4 linked regions of the Homo sapiens genome follow. The protein of the gene in region 2 interacts with the protein of the main gene of each other region in a biochemical or structural test. Each region holds a gene or a part of one and is shown on either strand. Other genes may lie near its edges.

Region 1 (3,500 bases), on a different chromosome or scaffold from region 2:
AAGTGAAAAGCTGGAGAGAGGCCAGCAGTGTTACATTAATTAAGTTCCCTTTGCCTGAAAGGAAATATCAGAATAGAGAAGAAGTGTTCCCCATTGGCATGGTTTATGAAGAATTCTAGTTGATAGAATTCTGGATATAGTAGCTTTCACAGTACTTTGCTTGGTAGTTGAGCTCTTTAAATATTTCATGGTATTTTGACACTACATCAAGAGTTATCAAGGTAGCGTCTAATGCCCTGGTTGATTTGTAGCAACTATGGTCCATGAAATTCAGCAGATTTATGTATAGCCAACTTTAAAATAACTTACCCTTGGCGTTCTTCCCCTATTTTTCATGTTATTCTTTAACTGCCAATAATTGGATCGCTTTGTAAGTGGTGAGAATTAGACATAAAAAAGATGATGTTAAAATCTGACTTCCCAAACCATATATAAGTGATCTAGGCTAGCTATTTTCCACAGCTTTTTCTGCCTCAGTATAAATAATTAGATTTTGGTGGCTGTTTGATGTTTTGCAATTAATAGGAGAAATCATGGACACAGTAAAGAAAGAAGATAAACATTGCTTTTCTAAATAGATACGATGTTGTATTTAAGTCTAAGCATGACTACTCAATCTAAAAATGCTCACTTTTTAAAACAAATTTTATCCTCTGTCACATATTTTATTTGGACTTTCAAATATTAGACTAATATAGCAGTCATTACCTTCAACAGTATACAATAATGTAATTTCCAGAAAGAGCAACCTCTTTGGTAGCTCCAAATGTAAAAGAGCCACAGTTCAATCTCTCATCTCTAACACAGTCTTCACTGGTGTGGAGCATTGTTCTTGGGGTCATGGGGAAACCAAATAAGGAAGAAGAATCCTCCAGAAAGACAGACAGGTGTTATATAAAAAGTCTCAGAGATAGTACAAATTGTCTCATTAACCCAGGACATGGAAGGTTGATGCAGGAAGGCTGGGGCTTGTAGCATCTGGATCAGATTATTTGTGTTGCTTAACTCAGGTTGAAAAAGAGTAATGTTAAATTCATAGCAGGTGCATAGATATATTATGGCACCTCTAGCCAAAGAAATATGCAATTATGAATTATAGTTTCAGAGTAGCTAATTATATGAGAACTATTCATAATACTAAAGCTAAGAAGATAATCAAGGCAAATAACTATATTGAATGTGATACCCAGCACACATACCCACTCCCAAATGTGAGAACACTGAGAACACAGTGTTTATGTCAGGGTTTCAAGAGTTTTGTTCTTTATATATTACTTTTCCACTAAATATATCATAGTTTAATATATATATTACATTATGCAGAAGAAAAGCATGCCTTTCCATTCTTGAAAAGAATAGTATATATTTATTTTGGGGTGAAGTTCATTAATTAGCTGAATGCATGACTTAAAGTTAACAAAGGTCATTCATCATGGAATGTAGATTACACAGATTTTGATCAGCCATACTTACATTTTCTCGCCTTTAAATTTGAGATTTGTTTGTTTTCAAAAGTAGTGCATGCTCATTGAAAATTCAAAAATACAGAAATGATTAAAAGAAGTTAAAATTCATGCATGGTTGCAAGCCCCAGAAATGACCATATTTTTAGCAGAGATATCAAGCGATACACATTTTTAAATTTAGAAAACATTGCTCATATTCTGTTTAGTTACCTATTAACATCTCATGTAATTAGTATTTATTTTTAGTGTCTGTTTTCCATACCTTTATATAACATTATTTACTTACATCACTCTGTTATTGGAGATTGATGACATTTTCATTTTTGGTAGTTATATTTAATGCTGTAATTAAGATCCTAATAACTAAATAGTTGTCATCAGGTTATTTACTCTAGATTACTTCCTAGAACTGGATGTTTTCAAGGTTGTTGATATATGTTGTTCATTTGTCTTCCAGGAAGATTATATAATTTATATTTCTCTCAGCAAGGCAGGAGTGTACAAATTTTCCCATGATTTCAACAACACTGGGTGTTGTAATGAGAAAAATAAAACTTCTAATTACATAGGAGAAATATTGTGTTTTTCTCTAATTCATTTGCTTCTCTATTAATATTCCTGAGGTTAAATATTTTCTAATTTGTTGGTGTCTACGTCTAATTTTTTTGTGAATTATCTTTTTATATCTTATACACATTTCTCAATTTATCTATTTTCCTTTTTTAAAATTGATTTATATTGTTTGTCTATAGTAATTATGTCACTCTGTCATGTCTTAACAGTTTATATATCATTTTATTGGTTCCTATTTTGGGAGCATAATTCTAAAGCTTGAAGTTAAACTTACTCACTTGTCCTACAGGAGTTCTTCTTTAAGGAAACATTTTACTGCTTGCTGATTTCGTGTGTCCCAGTAGTAAATACAGCAGTGGAGCAAATGGTTGAGAAAATAGCTTCAAAGTTGTACCCCAACTGACTGAGTTCATATCCCAACTTCATCATTTTCTAAGTGAACGGTTATTTTACTACTAAGTGTCATAACACAGGGGAAACAATAATTCCTGTGTCTTCAGGTTGTTGCGACGGTGAATTAAGAGACCATGGACTTAAAATACATAGCAGAGTATGTGGTATATTCACTATTACAACACACATTAGCTGTTTCTACTGCGAAATAATACAGATGCCAGATGCTTTTCTGTAATTCTGGCGTTTGCTTTTCCCACATGAAGCATAAACGCACCTGCACAGACTCCAGGATCACTGTGTGAAAAGGCAAGGTGTTTGTGGCAGTCCGGGGCTCACAGGTGCAGTGCTTTGTGTGTGGTTCTGGCACTTGACTGTGTGTTCTTCAGGGATGTCTCATTTCTCAAGTTCAAGTTCGTTGGGAAGAGCCAGGACACTGTTTTTAGGCAAACACATGATTTTCTACCTTCTCCCCCTGCTCTCAGGCACACACTCCTTCTCTCTGGTCACATAGGACCATGCTTCTCCCCAGCCCCACCCCATACTGGTAATCTATCTTTTAAAATAATTGATCCACAAATCATAGGATAGTAGTAGGCATGTAACAAACACTTAGTTCATCATTTGGGGCAAAAATGGTTTCTGAACCAAGGTTTCTTTGCTTGCTTTGGGTTGGTTTTGGGTACAGACACTGCAGCACCCTGGAGGGACCACTGCCTTAGGATGCCAAGTTCTGGGATCTAAATCGTGCTTGGCACTTGCCTTCTCTTGTGACTTTGCATCTTTGCCTATTTTGTCATTTGTTCCTTGGGATAAAAACTCACAGGGCTTTGTTGAATGTGCTGTGATAATTTAGGTGAAAATGCTTTGGGAAGCTTAATCATAATAAACATTTAAGTATAAAATATATTCTCTGGAACTTTTGATGCACTTCAAAAATACAGTAATGGTGGGGGGTAAGAGTTAGAGTCAAAAGATTTTCTTGCCTATAAAACTAAATCTCTGAATTTTGTTACTAATGTGTTTATAAAATGCCCACTTCCATAGTGGTTGTAAAGATATTGCTAC
Region 2 (3,500 bases):
CTAAAACAGAAAAGAATGTTTATGCCAATGTATGGATTTAAAAGACCTACAGCTACATACATATAATATAAACCAATTGCAAAATTCATGGTAAAATTGTTATAGGATCTTGATAATTAAAGAGAAAGTCTTCAAATACATTATCCAATATTGATTGCTTTCATTGAACCACTTGGGTTAACACAGTCTTTTCTAATTTTAGGCGTGGGGGTGAGGGGGGATGTGTGTGTGTTAGTTTAAAACTCCTAGAGTTTTTGGCCGGGCGCGGCGGCTCACGCCTGTAATCCCAGCACTTTGGGAGGCCGAGGCGGGCAGATCACCTGAGGTCAGGAGTTCGAGACCAGCCTGACCAACGTGGAGAAACCCTATCTTTACTAAAAATACAAAATTAGCTGGGCATGATGGCACATGCCTGTAATCCCAGCTACTTGGGAGGCTGAGGCAGGAGAACCGCTTGAACCCGGGAGTTGGAGGCTGCAGTGAGCTGAGATCATGCCATTGCACTCCAGACTAGGCAACAAGAGCGAAACTCCGTCTCAAAAAAAAAAAAAAAAAAAAAAACTCTCAGAGTTTTTAACTATTTATTTCTTTTCACTGGATTCAGATATTCAGATATAATTTGTAGACTCTTTTATTTAGAGTATTTCCTAAGCTCCGAACCTTTAATTTAACCTTTAGAAGCTTTAACTTCTTGTGTTTTTAAGGTCAAAGCAAATATATTTATCTCCTTTACTATCACTGTTGTTTATTTTCTTGGAAGGATTTAGTTTTATCTAAAGCTCTTTTTGACTCACATTAAATTTATTATTTTTTTACAAAGTTGAGTTAGTGAATTTTTCATCAGTGAAATAGTAACAGTAGTTTTACCTTTGCATTTATAATTTTTAATTTTAAGATGTAATTATTTTAAAAATAAAATATACTGTATTCAGTATTGTAGTTGGTGGAACAAAAAAAGTAGCATGTTTTTAATAGTAACAAATTACCTAATACGTAGATAGATGATAGACAGATCTGCTCATTAAAGCATTAATCTTTAACAGATTTAATAATTCTTAGATTCTAAATAAAGGAGTAGCACATAGCATCACAAATGAAGATTTTTAGATTTGATTATCTATAAAATATAATATTGATTATATAGCCCATTTGTATTTTGTTTTACATTTAGCAAACTCACTTTTAAGACTTTATAATTTGACACTTTTTTTTAACTAAATCTTGCCATAAAGTACCTCTTTCCATATCTTTGCCATTTTCTCAGGAAAGTTCTAGTAATGTATATGTTGTTTATGAAGAATTAGATTAGCATCAATTATCTTTACACATTTTTCATCTGTGCCTTCACTTTCTAATAGGTGGTCAAGAAGAATACGTCTTATCTTATGAACCAGTGAATCAACAAGAAGGTTTGTGAAGCCTATTGATGTTTTATAACCTTCTAGAAGAATATACTTTTTAATTTGGGGGAAAAAAATTCTCATACCCCAAAAAATGTTGTATTAAAATTTTTTTTTACTACATATACATGTAGAAATTTACTACATGTGTTTTATGAAACATAGTTTACTCCACAGAATATTAGAATCTAGTCATTTCATACTGACTTTTATATTTGTGTTTTATTTCCCAAGCAACTTTGTTCCAGTGTTCTTGTTAGCATCACTATCTTCCAAATAACCCTTTTTTGAAAATCTTGGAAGTATCTTTGAGCCTTCTCTGTTCCTCCTCCTCCTCCTCATCCAGTTAGGTTCCAGGCACTGTTTATCCCACTTCTTTCTTATTTATGACCTTCTTTTCATCCCTTCTATCACAATGTTAGTTCTCAGTCTCACTACCAATCTCCATTATTCCAGCATGATCCCAGACCACCCAGAGTTTACACTTCTGTTAGATCATCTTTCTAGAATGCTACTACTGGGATTATATCACTTCCTACATCCAGTTTCTGTTCTGCCCTTCTTTGCTCTGCTTCCTTACAATTTCTACTTCAAAGCCATCTGTAAAACACTAGACTTTATTCTGTCATTTGCAATGTAAAGAAACATTATCTGCGAAAACACCAAATTTAACTTGATTGAATTATCAATATGACTTCTAGCAGAAGACTAAGTAAAGTTTAAGATCTGAGTCAAGATTATAAAAGAGCAAGTTACGCATCTTTGGTTGATGGTAGAGTGAGATGGAGAGGGAAGAAAAAAATTAGTCATAACAGTTAAGGATATTTTTGTTCGCTGGTGAAATAAAATACATTGATATTTGTTGAATGTTTATTCCTTTTAACATGCAGTTTATCTTTATAGTTAATTATACTCGACCAGTGATCATATTGGGACCTATGAAAGACAGGATAAATGATGACTTGATCTCAGAATTTCCTGACAAATTTGGATCCTGTGTTCCTCGTAAGTAAACCAAACAAAAACATTTAATTGTTACTCTTAACATTTCCTGTCACTGTGTGTGGGAAAAATAGATATAACCATTTTTTAATGGTTTGTACTTATTTTATCAGTTACTCTTCCATCCTCCATATTATTGTCCTTTCTCAGATTTAAATTAATCTGTTCTGTTGAACTTTACAAAACGATGTAAGTAGAAAATGGATTTATTGTGGTTTTTTTTTTAATATTAAACACTTTCCCAAGTTTTTTTCTGTTAAAGATACAACTAGACCAAAACGAGATTATGAGGTAGATGGAAGAGATTATCATTTTGTGACTTCAAGAGAGCAGATGGAAAAAGATATCCAGGAACATAAATTCATTGAAGCTGGCCAGTATAACAATCATCTATATGGAACAAGTGTTCAGTCTGTACGAGAAGTAGCAGAAAAGGTAAGCATCAGACTAATCCCAGAATATAGCTTCTAATCAGATATGCCTTTGACAGTATGCAAGACTGGTAGGATAGATACAGCACTAATTAGTTTTGTTAATGTGATGAATTTGCTTACCTAAATAATTAATTTTCCATGGCTTAGGAAAGTGCATACAAGATAAAACAGGTAAATAAGGTAAACAAAGAAAGTGAAAATAGAAATGATAACATGAATGTAAGAGAAGTTATTTTCAGGTCATTTGCTAGAGATAGACCTTTTGTTTAGGCCTAGCTCTCCAGCATATATTAAAAGGAGATAAGGGCCGGGTGTGGCAGTGCACCCTTACAGTCCTAGCTACTGAGAAGGCTGAGTTGAGAGAATCACTGAAGCCTGGGAGTTTGAGGCTGCAGTGAGCTATGAGCATGCCACTGAACTCCAGCCTGGGCAACAGAACAAGACCCTGGCTCTTAAAAAAAGAAAAAAAAAGAAAGATCAATAAATCTAACCACTTAAAATTTTTAAAAAACTTTTTTTATGGCCAAAGACTTTTTCCAAAAACTATTGGAAAACACCATTAACAATGTCAAAAGACAACTGACAGAAAAAATTTGCAAGAAAAGGGCTAATATTCCCAATATATAAAGAACTCATAAAAACAGGGAACAGAGACCAGAAACCC
Region 3 (2,520 bases), on a different chromosome or scaffold from region 2:
TCCTCCAAGCCGCAGCTGGCACTGTCCGGCACCAGAGGGGCTGCTGACAAACACGTCTTCTGCAGCTGGCCTGCAGTCTGCTAACACTGAGAAGCCCTCTCTCATGCAAGTGGGAGGATATAATAACCAAGCCAAAACCTGTTCTGTTTCTACCCTGAGTGCAAGTGTCCACAATGGGGCACAAGTGAAGGAGCTAGAAGAAAGCAAGTGCCAAATTCCAGTCCACTCTCAAGAGAACAGGATAACTAAGACTGTTTCTCATCTGTACCAGGAAAGTATCTCCAAACAGCAGCCTCATATTAGTAATGAAGCCCACAGGAGCCACCTCACTGCAGCCAAACCAAAGCGATCATTTATAGAGTCAAATGTGTGAACCTTAAGAAATCCCCATTTGTGGAATTTGGAAACGTGTGTTGACTCCTGGTGGTAAATTAAATAGTTTTTTTCATCAGAAAAATTATTTTTTAGCCATTTTTTTTCTTTGGGGTGGATCTGATGCCATTGATATATCTAAAATGTGGGATAAAACTTCTTTAATAGCTAGAAATCACCATAAATAAGAATGCTAAACAGAATTGAAAATTATATCAACTTAAAATTTTAAGACAGCCCAGAAGACATTAATGACTCTCACTTATGAAATTGTTTGGCTTTTGCCACTTTCTTCCTTGCCTTTGCTATATGGTAGAATCACAGAACTTACTTAGAGAATAAATATGTCTATTGTTCAAGAGTAACAGGTTTAACTCATGACCAAGTGATGTACATCCAAGTGATGTATTCTGGAAACGATGGAATTTTACAGTTACAGTTCCATTGAGTCAAATCCCATTTTATATATACATAAAAATTAAGTTCTGAGTGAGTTCTAGCTAAATATAAGTGCGACTGTAAACGCAGCCAATTTTTTTAAGCAGAATATGAGAACACCTAAGTATTCTCTTCATAGCAGTTCCTATAAAGGGATTAAACACTTATTTCTGTGTTATGGTTCTTATTCATATATTTTTATAGCACTTTTGGAACCTATATTTGTGCTTGAAGGTGTTTTTGATATTTGGAAACAGTATAAGCCATTTGGAGTCATGATTGGTGGTCAAGTGGATTCAAGCTAAAATACTAAGACCAGCATTCTTAGTGGCGCTTATAAATTAGCTCTCACCTGGTTTCCAAACTGCTTTTAACAATGGTAGTGCTCCTGGAACAATCCTTCCAAGCTCCTCTAAGGACAATATTTAATTCAGATACTAAAGGTAAGACTGGTTGTTACTTTTGTTTTGTTGTACAATTAGTACTTTATAGTCACATGTTGTATATATTAAATAGCCCAGTTTTATTCAGACTTGTAAATAGAACTATTTCAATGTAGTTAATCTAAAAACAAAAAAGAAAACCCCAGTCACGATTTGCATGTTCTCTGTAAGCTTCATCCATGCTGGTTATTGCACTGAATGATATATTATTAGGGCATGTTAACAGTATACCAGTAACAGCACTTTATCTCATTTATATGAACACCTTTGAGGTGCTACTTAAGTCCAAGCTCTGATGTATTATTCATTTGTAAAGATAAGGTACAGGAATGAACCTTGGTTTAAAGGTATTTTTATATGAAAATGGTGTGTTATTGGAAGATGTTAAAATGCTAATTTGAGAGAAGTAGGAGTGTATCTGTTTTATATGTTGGGATGTGAAATTTATTTTCTAAAATTGAGGAGAAGGAAGTTATATATTTGCAGAATGTTTTAAAGTGAATTGTTGTAATGAAGTTCCTGTGAACATCATTATGGTTTTGTACAAATAGGAACCTCTGATGTCATTCTTCAACGTTTGTTCCTGTGTGTACAATTGTACTTTGTATGAACAGCTTTATCATTTTTATAGGCTTTCCATGAGTTTTGCTGTAACTACTATGGCTTATTTATTTTCTTTAATATTTGTGAAAGTCTTACTCCTTTGTTAGTTTTGTTTCTGCACAACTACTGTACTTTTCCATATGGAATAAAGACTATTAATAGAATGTGTTTTGCACTAAATGAGTCAATGGATAAGTAGAGAACAGCCTGATGACAGCTATCTCTGTTGCTTTTAATCTTTGTTACCCTAGAGGGAATAGTGAAAAGCATATTTTATATTAACACTACAAAATGCTTATTTAATTTCGTTTTATAATTTCAGAATAAGGGTGACAGCTGCTAGAAATTCCACAATACTCAAGGGCCAAATTTAGTCTTTTTGCCTCAAATAGAAAGAAAGCATGCAGGAAAGCAATATATACTTCCTATCTATCTGTTTCAAGACATCTTGGTGTCTGTTTTTACTGGCAACGGGACATCTTTACTACTGTAATTCTCAAACACTTTGGCAATACACTGAACACTGTTATGACAGTTTGTTCTTTAACACATTTGTATTATCTTTCAGTTAAAAGTATGTCTTTATGCCTACATATTTCAAAGTAATATGAGAGAGAACATTAAACTGTGTTGTATTGTGATAAAATTCTTGGAATCTTAAACA
Region 4 (3,500 bases), on a different chromosome or scaffold from region 2:
GCGTTTCCTTGCTTTGCATTTCCTACTGGATTAATAAAGGGGTTTAGGTAGTACTTTAAGTTTCTCTCCTGACCATATATTAACTATTTGCACACCCATTATTACCTCTTTTTGACTTCACAACAAGCCTTCTGCAGTGAGTGTTGGCAACTGCATTTTAGAGATGGGGAAACTGAGGCTCCAAGATGAAGGGACCTCACTCAAGGTTACCCTACTAGTTGCTAATGGAGCTGGGACTAGAACCCAAGTCTTCCTGTCTCCAAGGCCTGGTATTTTTTTCTCTAGAGCTCTCCAACCCACAGGAGTCTCTTAGCCTCAGGACCTGGCCTGGCACTGAGCTAGGAGAGGCCAGGAGAGCCTTAGGTCTCTAGAGGATTTGAGCAGGAGGAGATGAGTCTGGGATGAGTGGGGAGTTGACAGCGGCAGGGAAGAAGGCTCTGTCTCCCTCCTTTCCACTCTCCCTCCTGGCCTGGCATCAGGAGGGCCTGTTGATGCAGTAGCCATTGCTGTCACTGCTGCTGCTGCAAGCGACTCCCCTGCTAGGTCTGTTCTGGGTTTGTAAGGAGTGGGTGAGAAGCCGCTGGAAGCGAGGGCAGGCAGGGTGGGAGTTTAGCAGCAGAGGCTGCAGCATTGGGGGAGGCTAGGTAGAGCGGGTACAGGCTGGGCTCTCTTGGTCCCCAGGCTCCCCCTGGTGGAGGAAGAGGGGAGAGTGGTGCCTGGGCCGAGCTGCAGCTTGTTGGGGGGGCCCCGCTGTGCCTAGGGACTTTCTTTAGTCCTCCCAATGATCCCGTGCTTCTGTCACCACGATCCACATTTTACAGCAGAAGAAACTGGGGGATCAGAGAAGTGAAGCCCACCAGAGCTTACATTACTCATAAGACAGACTCCCAATCCTGTGAACTTTCCCTCTACTGCATTGGACATCAGCTGTCATGTCCACCCCCATCCATGTCATCCACCCAGGATTCCCATATCCTCCTGCACCGTCCCCTCTGGACAGGTTCCAGGATGCCAGTATCCCTTCTGCTGTGCTCAGGGTGTGGCCTTTCTAGTGCAGATAGAGTGAGATGCGTCCCTGTCTCCTTTTGGTCCTGGGTCCTCTGTACGCGAAGGTTTTGTTTGCTTGCTTTTTAGTCGTTGGTCCTGACTAATGCTCAGGTCTTTTTACCTGGAATTGTCCACATACCCCCCCAAGCCTGGTTGATTAGAGAATAGCTCTGCTTTTGTTGTTGATCTTGGCTTGGCCCCCTTGCAGTCCTGCCACCTAGAGTGATATATAGGAGTGCTAGGGGCCCCTGCTGAGTTGCTCCACGCTGAAGAGCTGCGTTTCCCACGCTCTTTGCATGGGCCCAGCTCCGGCTCTGCTGTAGGCGGTGGTGGGCTGAAGCTGGTATGGTGGCAACTCTCCTTCCTTTACCCCCACCCCCATCCACCCTGCAAGCTGGCTTACACTTGGAGATAGCAACTAGAGGGGCTGGCCTGGTGGTGTTTTTTTTCTTTTTCTTTTTTTTTTTTTTTTGGTTTTGGTTTGTTTTTGGGACAGGGGTCTTGCTCTGCTGCTCAGGCTGGAGTGCAGTGTTGCGAACATAGCTTACTCAAGTGAGTTCAGGAGTTTGAGGCTGCAGTGAGCAATAATTGCAAAAAAGGAACACCAGGCTGGCCCTTCTAGTTGCTATCCGCCCAATTCTTTTAAGCAGAGACGGGGTCTCTCTGTGTTGCCCAGACTGGTCTCAAACTCCTGGGCTCAAGCGGTCCTCCCTCCTTGGCGTCCCAAAGTGCTGAGCCACCACGCCCGGCCCAACGTGGTATTCTTGACAGCTAGGGCAGTGTATGGTCTACCACATGCTGTCGTCTGCTTGCAGTGGGATGTCAGCATGCTCCCCGCAGGGGCTAAGGCCACTGAGAGACAGCACGTGAGACAGTGAGCCCAGGGAGAGGCTCAGGGAAGTCTCTCCTTTGGGGTCTTGGGTACTTTTCCCAGGGGGTGTCTCTCCTTCCCAGGAGGGAAAACCATTTATCTTCCCTCCCACTGTGTTGTGAGCATTATCTTCGTGTGGGAGGAAATGGTAATGTTGAATTTAATGAGAATGAGAGTCTTGCTTCTCTATCTAGATCTGGGGCAAGAATGGGGTTGTTATCATCTACAAACATTTCTTGGCTGTGTGCACAGCGCAGGAGGGGCCACGAGGCTGAGCAAACACTGCACTCTTAGCGCTTGCAGAACCCCTGCTCCCCTCCATCCAGGGAGACAGGGTTGCAGGCCTAGCCATGCCATAGAGGCAACACTCAGGACAAAATGAGTGGCAAGAATGGTGAGGAGTGGAAGTTCTCAGAGGAAGGAGGGATCAGGCCAGGCCAGGCTGCTGTTTGAGTACCTGGGCGGTGGGTGAGGGATGAGGGGTATGGAAGGAATGTGAGTGGTCCCTTCATGGAGGTGGCAGCTGGGAGGAAGACGTCAGACCAGACTTGCTGCCTGCCCTTTCCTCATCTGTCCCACCCCTGCCTACCAAGGTCTCTGAATTTGCTGGGCGCAGAGTAAAGGCCTGGAGCATGGGGAAGAGGCCACACGTGTACCGAGTGAGTCTCAGCCTTCTGCCAGGCCCCACGCTATGTGACTTTATGTAATAATAGCTAACATTTTTTCACTGCTCTTACTGTGTGCTAAGCACTATTTGTTCTAAGCGCTTTCCATGTATTAATTCATTCAATCTCCACATGAATCCTCTCGTGTAGATATTGTTATTAACTCCATTTTACAGATGAGGAAACTGAGGCCCAGAAAGGTTGGATAGCATACCCAGGATCACTCAATGAATAAGTGGCAGAACTGTGAAGGAGCTGGAGGAGCCCAGGGAGTTGGGCTTCAGGGTCCGCAGTGTTCTAACCCACCCTGGAGCACTACTTCTTACCTCATTTGCACAGAGCCCCTGTCAGATGGGTGTGTTCGTTTGTTTGTTTGTTTTATGAGTTTCACTCTTGTTGCCCAGACTGAAGTGCAATGGCACACTCTTGACTCACTGCAACCTCCACCTCCTGGGCTCAAGCAATTCTCATGCCTCAGCTTCCCGAGTAGCTGGGATTACAAACACGTGCCACCACCCCCGACTAATTTTTGTATTTTTAGTAGAGACGGGGTTTCACCATGTTGGTCAGGCTGGTCTCGAACTCCTGACCTCAGGTGATCCGCCCACCTCTGCCTCCCAAAGTGCTGGGATTACAGGCATGAGCCACTGCGCCCAGCCTATTATCTTCATTTTTTCAGACAAGGAAACAAGGATCAGAGAGGTACAGTGACCTGCCCGAGGTTATTCAGGCAGATGGAGCCCAGAACTGTCTGGCTTCCAAACCTATGGTACACCGCTGCCTCCCGCAGGTGGGCTTTAAAGACATCAGAGCTACTCCAGGTATGTGGCTCTAGCTTCCTCCAACAGAGCTCCCAGGACCCCTGCTCTAGGCAGGCTCCCTCTCACCATCACCCCCTGAATTTTGGCCATGGTCTC

What was found. Proteins that work in one complex are often made in the same cells at the same time.
Region 1: the proteins of DLG1 (region 2) and CTNND2 interact in a test that uses a peptide from one of them, tested with the Homo sapiens proteins (2 studies listed by IntAct, with this or other methods).
Region 3: the proteins of DLG1 (region 2) and TANC1 interact in a test that uses a peptide from one of them, tested with the Homo sapiens proteins (2 studies listed by IntAct, with this or other methods).
Region 4: the proteins of DLG1 (region 2) and IQSEC2 interact in a test that uses a peptide from one of them, tested with the Homo sapiens proteins (2 studies listed by IntAct, with this or other methods).

Annotation. Positions count from the first base shown.
Region 1 is NC_000005.10:11,894,447-11,897,946, reverse strand, and holds part of CTNND2 (catenin delta-2), read left to right. Parts: intron 1-3,500. UniProt on the Homo sapiens protein: Has a critical role in neuronal development, particularly in the formation and/or maintenance of dendritic spines and synapses. Involved in the regulation of Wnt signaling.
Region 2 is NC_000003.12:197,064,613-197,068,112, reverse strand, and holds part of DLG1 (disks large homolog 1), read left to right. Parts: intron 1-1,358; coding exon 1,359-1,409; intron 1,410-2,303; coding exon 2,304-2,405; intron 2,406-2,648; coding exon of another isoform or gene 2,649-2,662; exon of another isoform or gene 2,663-2,664; coding exon 2,665-2,837; intron 2,838-3,500. UniProt on the Homo sapiens protein: Essential multidomain scaffolding protein required for normal development. Recruits channels, receptors and signaling molecules to discrete plasma membrane domains in polarized cells.
Region 3 is NC_000002.12:159,230,640-159,233,159, forward strand, and holds the end of TANC1 (protein TANC1), read left to right. Parts: coding exon 1-373; 3' UTR 374-2,020; downstream 2,021-2,520. UniProt on the Homo sapiens protein: May be a scaffold component in the postsynaptic density.
Region 4 is NC_000023.11:53,314,851-53,318,350, reverse strand, and holds part of IQSEC2 (IQ motif and SEC7 domain-containing protein 2), read left to right. Parts: intron 1-3,500. UniProt on the Homo sapiens protein: Is a guanine nucleotide exchange factor for the ARF GTP-binding proteins.